Homo sapiens: one gene and its partners. The protein of the gene in region 2 purifies or fractionates together with the protein of the main gene of each other region. This does not show direct contact. Each region holds a gene or a part of one and is shown on either strand. Other genes may lie near its edges. The genes, in order: OCIAD1, UST and SLC30A7.

Region 1 (3,653 bases), on a different chromosome or scaffold from region 2:
CTCCTGGGTTCAAGCAGTCCTCCTACCTCAGCTTCCTGAGTAGCTGGGACTACAGTTGTATGCCACCATCCCTGGCTGTTAAAAATTTTTTTTGGTGCAGTGGGTTTTTCCCTATGTTGCCAAGGCTGGTCTCAAACTCCTGGGCTCAACCAGTCCTTTCACCTTGGCCTCCCAGAATGCTGGGATTATAGGTGGGAGCCACTGTGCCTGACCTTTCTTGTACATTTGTGAATTTGAAAGAGTTATATGCCAGCTTCTAAGGCATTTCTTAAAGATGAATTTTTAAATCCTGGTTTCTTTTAAGTCTTTTTGGAATAGCTATACATTAGCCAAAGTAAATTTTTTGATACAAGTTTACCTCTAAAGGAAGAGGACATTCGAATAGGGTTTTATAGCTATTTCAGTATAGGGTTTTATGATTTTCTCTTAAGGAATTTCAGAGTATGTGTCATTGTTTCAAGATTTTCTATTTACTACTTTAAAAATGGAAATAATAGGTCTTTGGTACCTTCTTGAAGGTCATATGCCACAAAGAATGCAAAAATACATGAAAGTCCTTAGTATTTGTTGTTATGGTCATTTTTTAGAGCTAATTTTATTTTTAATCATTAGCGGTTGCTTCGTTTGGAGTTCTGTTTTTATAACAATGATAGATAATATCTGCATCATATTATTGATGTAAAAAAAATCTACCTTTGAAATGAATTAGGGATGTACCATACTTTTGAATGTTTGTCATCAAACAACATTTAGCATAAACTGCATCTAGTGGCCATTGCTCTGTAATATGTAAAGACTTGTCGGTACTTTGTCCTGCTAATTAATTTGAGGATTTAGATTGTAAGCTCTGTGAGGGCAGAAAGTAATATTTTTCTCATTTTTGTAATCTTTTCTATTATTGTCTGCATAGCATAGTACTTTACACTGTATCAGAAATTGAGTATTTTGGTTTAGGCTTCTATGGTAATAGAGGTTAAGAAAGGAAATTTGGTAGACCTTTAACATTTGCTGGATTTTGACATTTTTGATTTTTGACTGAAGTCTTCAAGTTCTGTTACATGACACAAGAATGTGAAATGATTTTTTCTTTTTTTGGGAAAAGCTGGTTTTTTGTGTGCTTTATATAATTTAAAGAAAAGACTTGTTATGAAATAGTTTCAGTCATTTTCTGAATTATTGTTGAAATTAGTACAGGGTAGATTCACATGGTCAGAAAGTGTCACTTAAAGTTTTCACCTTTAGCTTATGTGGTTGATATTTATCTAATTAGAAATTAAGACCCAGAAATTTAAAAAATTCAAGCACATATTCCATTAGCTGCCAGAGCAATGTCACCACACATCCTGTAGCTTCTAGAAAACCATGTAACATATACTCATGAGGGAATGAGAGCAAGGGGAAAAGGCAAAATGTGAAACATAAGGATATATAATGTCTTAGTATAATAATGAAATAATTTTGACTTCATGTATTCCCTGAAGAGTCCACACTGTGATAACTGCTGCTTTATATTGTTATGATTACTCACAGACAGAAGCTATGTGGAAGAGAAGCAAAAAAGTAAAGGAGTAGAATAGACAGCGGAGCATGTTTTAAAATGTAAAATATAGAGTACCTGTAAAATGTAGTAGTATTTTCTTCTTATAGTAGTATTTACAGCCCTGAGAGAGAAGATTGAATTAATTACAACTTGAACACTTGACCATTTCTACTGCTGTATTTTTTGTGAAAAACGAAAATTCAAATGTTTGTTTTATTATTTCCCACTATTTTTTTTTTTTTTTGTATATGGCTTAATATGTGCCACACTTAGGTAGTATGGTAAAGATGTAAAGGTACCTAGGCTTTGGATCTAAACAGACCTATACTCAAATCTCAGTTCTTGTTAGGGCTTGTACCTTGGGCAAGTTACTAATCTTTTTTCTCACCATTAAAATGAGAATTGTGTTTAGAAGTTTGTTATGAGGACTAACTATTTATGTAAAATTCTAGATACAATGCATTTGTCCAACCCCAAGTTCACAAAAGTCTGGTCATCCCCTTTTTGTAATTATAATTTGACTCTCATGTGCTTTTATTCAAATGAGAGAGAAACATAACTTTTCATCATAGCAACAAACTTAAAATAATGTCTTTTACTTATTATTGCTTGGAATCATCAATTATTTATGCTTTTTTCCTAGTCAAAGTAAACAAGTATGGAGATACTTGGGATGAGTGAAAAATTACATCATTGGACATGAAGGAGTTTCAACATCCAGCTTCATCTAGGTGGTCATGATTACCTGCATGCTTTGAGCTCAGCAGCAGTCTTCATAAACACATTTAAAACAAGATCCTGGGTTTTTGTGGTTTGACTTCTATGGTGTTTTAAAAAAACACAGATTTTTAGTGTTAATATTGTGTAAATGTACTCACCTTAGGGATTCATTTGAATGATGGTATTATACCATGATTGTATACAGTTTGTGAAATTGTTGCAAGGGCAAAGATAACTCTTAAAAAACCGTCGAGATTACAATGCTCTAGAATCAGCATATAAGAAAATAAATGATATCTGCATGTTGAATTGGGGTGGATGGGGGGAGCAAGCATAATTTTTAAGTGTGAAGCTTTGCATCAAGAAATTATTAAAAAGCTTTTTTTCTCCAGTATTTTCTGTATTATCTTAATGTTTATGGCAAATAAAATGTAAAGGAACATGCAACAGCCCTCATCTTCCTTGATTTTATGGTTTTATTGTTTGTAATTTATTGATTTATTTTTAAGCTAGTTATAATCATGTAGGTATAGGAAATAAAGTCATCTATAATATTTCTATAATATGGCTATAATATGGCTATAAATCTATAATATGGCTGGAGGCAGTGGGCAGTGGTTCATGCCTGTAATCCCAGCACTTTGGGAGGCCGAAGTGGGAGGATTGCATGAGTCCAGGAGTTTGAGACCAGCCTGGGCAACAAAGCGAGACCCTGTCTTTACAAAAAAATAAAAATTAGCTGGCGATGGTGTCGTGTGCCTGTAGTCCTAGTTACTTAAGAGGCTGAGTTGGGAGGATCAGTTGAACCCAGTGGTTCTGGGTTGCAGTGAGCTGTGGTCACACCACTGAACTCCAGCCTGTGCGACTGAGTGAGACCCTGTGTCTAAAAAAATAAAAATATAATGAATGTGATTTATGTAGATAAATTGATAATATAGTAAATAGGTAAATGCCTTAAAAAGCATTTTTAAAGAATTTGTAAATTCTAAAACAATAAAAATTTGGTATACATCACAGAGACTGATATTATGTTAAAAAGAAAAATTGGTGTACAGTGACCCTTCGTATCTGTGGGTTCCGTATCTGCAGATTCAATCAACTGCAGATTGAAAATATTTGAGGGAGAGAAATGGATGGTTGTCTGTACTGAACTCTTGTTATTCCCAAACAATACATTGTAATAACTATTTACATAGCATTTACATTAGGCATTACAAGTAATCTATAAATGACTTAAAGTATATAGGAGGATGTGCATTGGTTATATGTAAATACTACACCATTTTATAGTGGACGTTAGGAACCTGGACCAATAGACCCCCACCTAGTCACATTTTAGAAAGAACACATGGGATGGGAGATACCGCAGCCATCTTTCAGTCTATCATTTGGC
Region 2 (3,653 bases):
CACACCACACCACACACACACACACACACACACACACACACACACACACACACACACACCATAGAACAAGATAAAGCCAAAAGGAGAAAATGATTAACATAAACCTTTCTTCTTCAAAGGAGTCTAATTTAGGATAAGACCTCTCCTTGCACAAAGAACGGAGTTTATGTTGTCTTCTAGAAATAAAAATCAGTCACATCAAACTCTTTACATTAAAATTCTATAAACTCTTTAAATGGCTTGTTGTTGAAAAGACAAAGGAAATCCTAGTTTCACAACCCCACTCAGGTAAATGGGATTTGAACTCTAATGAGAGCTGGGAGGCTAAGGCAGCCTCCACCAACTATCCACCTTCCTTCAGCAAGTCCCTGATGGTGGTAGGGCCACCTTGACCTTGTGCAACGGGATCCAGGGCTCTCTGGGCAAAGACCAGTTTCCCTGGGCCTTGGGACCTACCAGTGATGCAGGTGGGGTTCGGGAACCCTGTGGAATGTGAGGCAGCAGACTGCATTTGGGGAGCTTTCATCTGCTGCTTCCTTCTTTCTTTCTTTCTTTTTTTTGAGATGAAGTTTCGCTCTTGTCGCCTAGGCTGGAGTGCAGTGGCGCGATCTTGGCTCACTGCAACCTCCACCTCCCAGGTTCAAGCGATTCTCCTGCCTCAGCCTCCCGAGTAGCTGGAATTACAGGCTCCCACCAACACACCTGGCTAATTGTTGTATTTTTAGTAGAGACAGGGTTTCTCCGTGTTGGCCAGGCTGGTCTCGAACTCCTGACGTCAGGTGATCCACCTGCCTCGGCCTCCCAAAATGCTGGGATTATAGGCATGAGCCACCGCACCGGGCCTATCTGCTGCTTATTTCTACAGGGCAGAATGCCTTCTTCCATCTCAGGACAACAAAACAGAACAATAAACAGATCACTGAATGTGTATTCAAGGCTTGTTGTCACAGCAGTAGATTAAGGAGAATAGGAAAAAACAAACAACGTTGTTTGTCTTTCTCTTTGGATAAAATGACAATGAAAAAATAAATGATGGATTTCTGAAAGTAATTATACTTACGATGATACCACAGGCAGCCCTTGTAATTGCTTTGCCACATTCTATTTCTTGCTGCTATTTGGGGACCACTCGGTTTGTTAGGATAAAATCATAATTGTATTTTCAATTTGCTGCTCTATCTATTCCACTGTCAGGATTTGATACACTAGAGTGCTTTTATCAAATGGAAGTTGGGCCAGAGAGAATTCATCACAAGGATGGCTCTTTCATACTCACGCATGTTTCCATCAATGGAGTCCAGGTGCACACACACGGATTCATTTGTACCCACCCCAACAACATGCTCAAGACAAGGCTGATGGAAAATGTTGCCAGTTTCAGTTTCCAGCAACATGCTCAAGACAAGGCTGATGGAGAATGTTGCCAATTTCAGTTTCCATAGGGAGAAATGGAGCCATTAAGCCTTTGGAACATGGTGCTTTTATGTCTGAACATGAAGCTCAAGATTTTGGCATCTGCAGCTCCTGGTTCTAACTTTCCTTTGCAAGCCCAGGGAACTAACTGCCCTTTGTCATCAGAAGAGATCATTTCACTCCTTTATTTCCTGAGGCCTTTTCAAGGTGAGTAGCCCTGGACACAGACCTCTCATGGAGAAGAGCTTGCTTACAAATGAAGTTACCTGGGTCTTTGTAGATACTGAGCACGCCCTTGAAGTAATGAGGTAAAAATCTTTCCAGTAACAGCAGCACATCTTCCAACTCTTCAAGAATCCCCACGAGCAGGAAGTTTTCATTCACGTTCAGCTTTGCTCTCTCAAGGGCCCATTCACCAGGCTCCCTTTATGGATATAAAAATTTATTTAAAATCAGACATTCATATTTGAAATGCAGCAAGATGCTGAGAGTTTACCCCCTCTACCTCCCACCTTCACTTGCATAAGTCCAAATCCTGTTTCCCTCAAGGACCAGCCCAGATGTAGCCCCATCCAGGGCCTTCCCAGTCCTTCCAACTGGTGTCCTGCCCTGCTCACCATTCCTTCTCTGTCACTTTCATCCATGCTTCATGCCAAGCCCAGGGCCTTGAATTCAGAGGCCCTGCCTAAGTATTGTGGACGAATGAATGCAGGCACAAGCAGTTAGGTTCTAACAAATACTAATCAAGGGGTGAGTAGAATGGTTTTTTAATAGGAGGACCAAACTGAACCAATTAAATGAATTTAGGAGTTTTGAAATATGAAACTTACCGACATAGTATTTATGTAGAACTCAAAAGAGCTGTCAGGTCATGCCTATTAATCATCTTATTCTTTGGAAGAGTTAAAGAGGAATCTTTGGATTTTTGTTTTGTTTTATTTTGTTTGTCTAGATTGCAGAAGGAAAACAGCCTAATTTGTAAAAATCAGAGAGCTGATTTGTAGGCCAGCTCTCTGAACTGACACTAAGGCGAGTGAGAAAAGCCCGGGAGTGGGGCTCCAGGCCTGGCTGTCATTTATCATTTGGGGGAATTGGGCAAGCCAGGGTTCTCTTTTGAAAAATGGTAAAAATCACCCTTACCTAGTTCAAAGCATTGTTGTAAAGACTGTGCAAGGTGATATGATGAAAGAGTTATAAAAATCATTGTGTGTGTATCAAGGTGTGGTGTCATGAGTCACCTCTCCAAGATTAGAAAATTCAAAAATCTGAAAAATACTACACGATTTAAAAAATACTTTAGGGAGTTCAAATCATGTTTCCTGTTATAAAGATATTCACTGTGATCAGCAAGTGAGTCATCCAGCCCCAAATCTTCCCAATACCTGAAGCACTAAATGTTAACCAGGAGGTATTTGTTATTGAGGCAAGGGTCGGGGGCAGGGGAGAGGCCACCTGGACTCAGGGGGCTTATGGTGAAGTCAAAAACCAACACTCCTAGTTCTATAATTTGGACTATAAGCAAACTCTTTTGTTATGGCAAATGAAACAAGACAGGAATAACAACAATACGCCTAAAAACGAAGCAGAAATCATAGCATAAGCAAAAAGGTACAATGAATGCGTTGCCGGTGTAGAAGTAGCAGTTCTCCTTTGGCCTTTTCAGAAACACAAGGACCCTCTAGTTAATGTTTCCTTTGGGGAATAATGTCACTTCTGATAGCAGGGGTTGATTTCCTACCAAGCAAATATAATGCTTCATTGTTGCTGCCATTTCTTCTCCAGGCTATGACATTTGTCTAGCACAGTAGATTTCAACTATAGCTACGCCAGAAGCATCTGGGGAGGCTGCTACACACGAGACTATGATTGGGTGGGGGTTCTTAACAAGTATACAGGGGTGCTGATGCAGGACCTGGGCAGATCACACCCTGGGGGTCCTGACTATCTGAGTAAGTCACTCTCTAAAGAAGGTTGTGCCTTCAAGTAAGGTTGACAGGTGATCATTATAAAACACTTTCTTCTCTGCCTACTAAGTATATCCACTATGGGATTGAGGTGTGGGCTTCCAGTGTCTCAGACCCAGTGACACATGCTACGAGGGCAGGTTGTTGGTTAAGTCAGTCACTGTACAGGAGCAGGCTGGGTGTTCGCTCCTGGTCTTCACGATCACATTTTATGTGACATTTTGTCATTTTATCCAAAGAGAAAGACAAACAACATGGGATGAGTAGTGACAAGTA
Region 3 (3,753 bases), on a different chromosome or scaffold from region 2:
AAAACCACCGAATACTCCATACACACACACAAAGTTCTCAGAACGAGAGCAAAACATGCATATATCCTCACTACAAAAAGAAAAATACTAATACTGGAGCATTTTGCTGTGTCTCCTTACCTCGAGTGCAGTAGATTGCAGTAGGGCCAGCCGATTTATTTCCCTGCAGCTTAGTTATCATAAAACGGAAGGGGCGTCTCGTTTGCTCATTTTTGTTTTTTTTTCTAAACCAAGTAGCGTGCATCTATCCTTCTCCATTAGCTGGATTAACAACCTGGAAAAAGTGCCGCCCGCAAAGTGAGCGCCTGGAGCAAGGGACAGTCCCCGAGTGGCCGCCCCTCCCTTTCGGTGACGCTCCACTTCCTGTCGGCCTAAAAGGCATTCCCAGGAAGCTCGGTTTTGTAGTTTCCAGCCCACCTCCGAAAGCCAATCCTTTCCTCCATTTCTTCTCCAAGGTAACAACTTTTAAACATTCACGTGACGGACCACCTTCCCTCAGCCAAACAACTTCCCTGAAAGGCGCCCGAAGGAGCCTTCCCATCCACCGCGGGTGCCCAGGAAAGGCCTGTGGGGCTCTCCTCCCCGCGCTCCACACGCCCTCGCATCCCACCGAGGGGCCAGCTTCTGCCTGCACGTTGCTGAAACTGGCCTGGAGGTTCTGACAAGAATTAGAGCGGCGGCCGTTGCCCCGGGGATGACCTGGAAGCGAAAGAGACCGGCACGAATTCTAGAGTTTCGGGGTTTCCGCGGGTTGAGATTGTACGGGAAACAATGCATTAACCAAACCTAAAAATCAAACAAACACGTCTGGTAGAACCTACCATTAAAAAGCTTCTTTCCTATACTACGTTTAACAGCCTTTATTTTGAAAGACATTGATTGATGCCAGGCATGGTGGCGCACGCCTGAGGTCTCAGCTACTCCGGAGGCTGAGGAGGATCACTTGCGTCCGGGAGTTCCAGGCTGTAGTGAGCCTCATTGTGCTCCAGCCTAGGTGACAGGGCGAGACCTTGTCTCTTAAAAAAATAAAGAAAGAAAAACATTGATCGCCTCCTGCGTGGCAGTCCAGAAGGGTCAAGCGCTGTTTTCGGGGTGGCGTGGAATGGATTCCTAAGATTTGGGCGCCCATAGAGTTAACGCAGCAAAACGATCACTTGCGTTTCCTGCGGACTGGCGGCAATAGAACACGTGGCTGCCTAGACTCTTAATCACTGATATCTACCACACCAGGATTTAATGCCAGTTGGGAGGAAATGGCGAAAGGGCAGGCGCTGGAGCCCATGCATCCGGGAACACTGGTGGTAGGCGGTCGGGTGGGCGTGAGCGGGCTCTCCATCTCCCAGCCCAGTCTGCAGGTCGCCACCTCAGGATTTTCTTCCTGAGTCCGGGTGGCAGGATTCCATCCCAGGTCAGCCCCTCACACCCCCTGGTAGTTGCCACCTCCTGGCGTCCCTCCAACAGCTCCAGCACCTTTCTCATCCCGCCCCCGCCGCAAGCCACGCCCTCCGCCGCGCAGGCCCCGCCCGCGACCGGCCTCCCTCCTTTCCTGTCCCAGGACGCGTTGCGCGGCCCGGGCCGGAAGTAAGCGAATTCCCGGGTGTGTGTCTGTGTCTGTCTGTGTCTCGCAGCGGCGCGCGGCCCCGGACAAGCGCTGGGGATTCCCGTTTGAGGCGTCACTACTGTCACTGCCATCACCCCACGGAGCCACTTCTAGAGGGGAGTAGACCCGGCCCTTCGCCGGGCAGAGAAGATGTTGCCCCTGTCCATCAAAGACGATGAATACAAACCACCCAAGTTCAATTTGTTCGGCAAGATCTCGGGCTGGTTTAGGTGCGGGGTGCTGTGTTTGCGGGGAGGGGGTGTCCGGCAGAAAGGGAGAAGGCCCAGACCTCAGGATGGCCCGAGGTCCAGTGAGGGAGAGTCAAAAACTCCCCGTCAACCCCTAGCTGTGAAGAAAGGAGCATGTGAACTGGGAGGGTCTTGAAGAGGGTACCCAGCCTCGGGGTCCCGGCACCTCCTTAACTCTCCCGGCTCTTTTCCACGTGTATCATTCCCAGGTCTATACTGTCCGACAAGACTTCCCGGAACCTGTTTTTCTTCCTGTGCCTGAACCTCTCTTTCGCTTTTGTGGAACTACTCTACGGCATCTGGAGCAACTGGTAACCAAAGGGGAAAATGGTTTGGGCGGAAGCTGGGTGTGAGGGAGACGAAGCACTGTTTGCTTAATGCCACGTAGCTCCTCACTAGGAGGTTCAGGTCCTACCTTTGTTACCTACCTCTGCTGCTGAGTTGCTTTCTCATACCCACACCAATCTGGTAGGGCTACAGTTCTTGAGTAAGATCTGGGCCTATCCTGTGCAACCTCTCTTGTCACGCTCCCCTCCAGTTCCATCAGACAAGACTGACAAGCCCCTCCTTATTTTAGCAGATGGGCAGAATCTTTCATTTCTAATTGTAGGCCTTAGGTTTACCCACTTTGTTGGAATTGGGAGAAACTTGTTTGCTGCCTCTCTCGGGGGGGAGTGGCATTTGGATTTCACCCTTAAGATTCTGAGAGAGTATATCTGAGATGTTCTACTTAGTTTGTTATTGGGGCTTGGAATGGGAGGTTTTATAAAGTGATATCGGGAGGAATATGTGTCATTCTCTTCTCTCTTTAATGCCGAAACTGTCTCATGATTTTCCTGTAGTCTTAACTGCGATGTAAAAATCCCATATAGTTTCTAGAAACAACATTTCTTGGGTTTTGGTGGCACCTTTGAGGGTTTTTGTTTTTTTTGAAACATCCTTAGGAGGAGGAAAATCTAGTGTGTAACTCTGTGGCAGTGAAGTTACTATTATTCAGGTATTTGCTGTTGAGTAACTTAAGGTCTTATGAAGTTGTTCTGCTAACAAGACTGTCACACTCCTAGGTGTACTAATTCTGTCTTTAGATCCCATACTCCTTCAAAAATCTGATGAAAGCCAATACTCAGAATTGTACATAAAGCTTCAGGATGTTGTTGGGTTCCCTGTACTAAATCTTGGACTCTAGATTAAGAACCTGTTTTCTATTTATTAAATAGACTTAGTCTCTGTTGTTTAAGACCCATTTTCAGAGAAAATCGCTGTCCTTGATCTTCTGTTGAGATCAAACATTGACAGGTAATATCACCAGGTTTTGTGACATGTATACTTTTATATAATGCTTGGGCTTCTTTCAATTCAACCGTCAATTCAGTTCTATAAAAAATACTCAATAACCAGCAGATTATGAAGGTTATTGGTTTAGTCAACAGTTGGGTATAAAGGCATATTGGCACAATGAAATCTTAATATATGTAATAACCATTTTGAATCCTTTGGGAATCAGATGTGTTAATTTGAAGGATACCCCATCATAGATTAATTTTTTAATCCCATAGTATTAACACACTTTAATATACTGTAGATGTTGAAAGCACTTGTACTTGAATAATCATACTTTATCATAAATATATAATATTTACAGTATATTTTACATTTTTCTCTTCCTAAATTATGCCAAATTAATTTTGGGATATGTGCTGATTGTATCAGGAGTGTATCATAGCTTATATATGCATATTTTGTATCAAGAGTGTATCATAGCTTGTATATGCATATTTTGTATCAAGAGTGTATCATAGCTTATATATGCATATTTTGCTACAGATAGTTTCTATTGCAGTGTTTCACTATGGCTTTCCATTACATAAGTCACTCTGTGAAATATCTCATTCAAGAGATTCACAC

What was found.
Region 1: the proteins of UST (region 2) and OCIAD1 purify together in Homo sapiens (affinity purification with mass spectrometry; 2 studies listed by BioGRID and IntAct, with this or other methods). This does not show direct contact.
Region 3: the proteins of UST (region 2) and SLC30A7 purify together in Homo sapiens (affinity purification with mass spectrometry; 2 studies listed by BioGRID and IntAct, with this or other methods). This does not show direct contact.

Annotation. Positions count from the first base shown.
Region 1 is NC_000004.12:48,858,542-48,862,194, forward strand, and holds the end of OCIAD1 (OCIA domain-containing protein 1), read left to right. Parts: intron 1-1,615; exon of another isoform or gene 1,616-1,662; intron 1,663-2,183; coding exon 2,184-2,221; 3' UTR 2,222-3,274; downstream 3,275-3,653. UniProt on the Homo sapiens protein: Maintains stem cell potency. Increases STAT3 phosphorylation and controls ERK phosphorylation. May act as a scaffold, increasing STAT3 recruitment onto endosomes. Involved in integrin-mediated cancer cell adhesion and colony formation in ovarian cancer.
Region 2 is NC_000006.12:149,019,508-149,023,160, reverse strand, and holds part of UST (uronyl 2-sulfotransferase), read right to left. Parts: intron 1,838-3,653; coding exon 1,680-1,837; intron 1-1,679. UniProt on the Homo sapiens protein: Sulfotransferase that catalyzes the transfer of sulfate to the position 2 of uronyl residues in glycosaminoglycan chains. Has mainly activity toward iduronyl residues in dermatan sulfate, and weaker activity toward glucuronyl residues of chondroitin sulfate.
Region 3 is NC_000001.11:100,894,513-100,898,265, forward strand, and holds the start of SLC30A7 (zinc transporter 7), read left to right. Parts: upstream 1-1,577; 5' UTR 1,578-1,750; coding exon 1,751-1,830; intron 1,831-2,057; coding exon 2,058-2,159; intron 2,160-3,753. UniProt on the Homo sapiens protein: Zinc ion transporter mediating zinc entry from the cytosol into the lumen of organelles along the secretory pathway.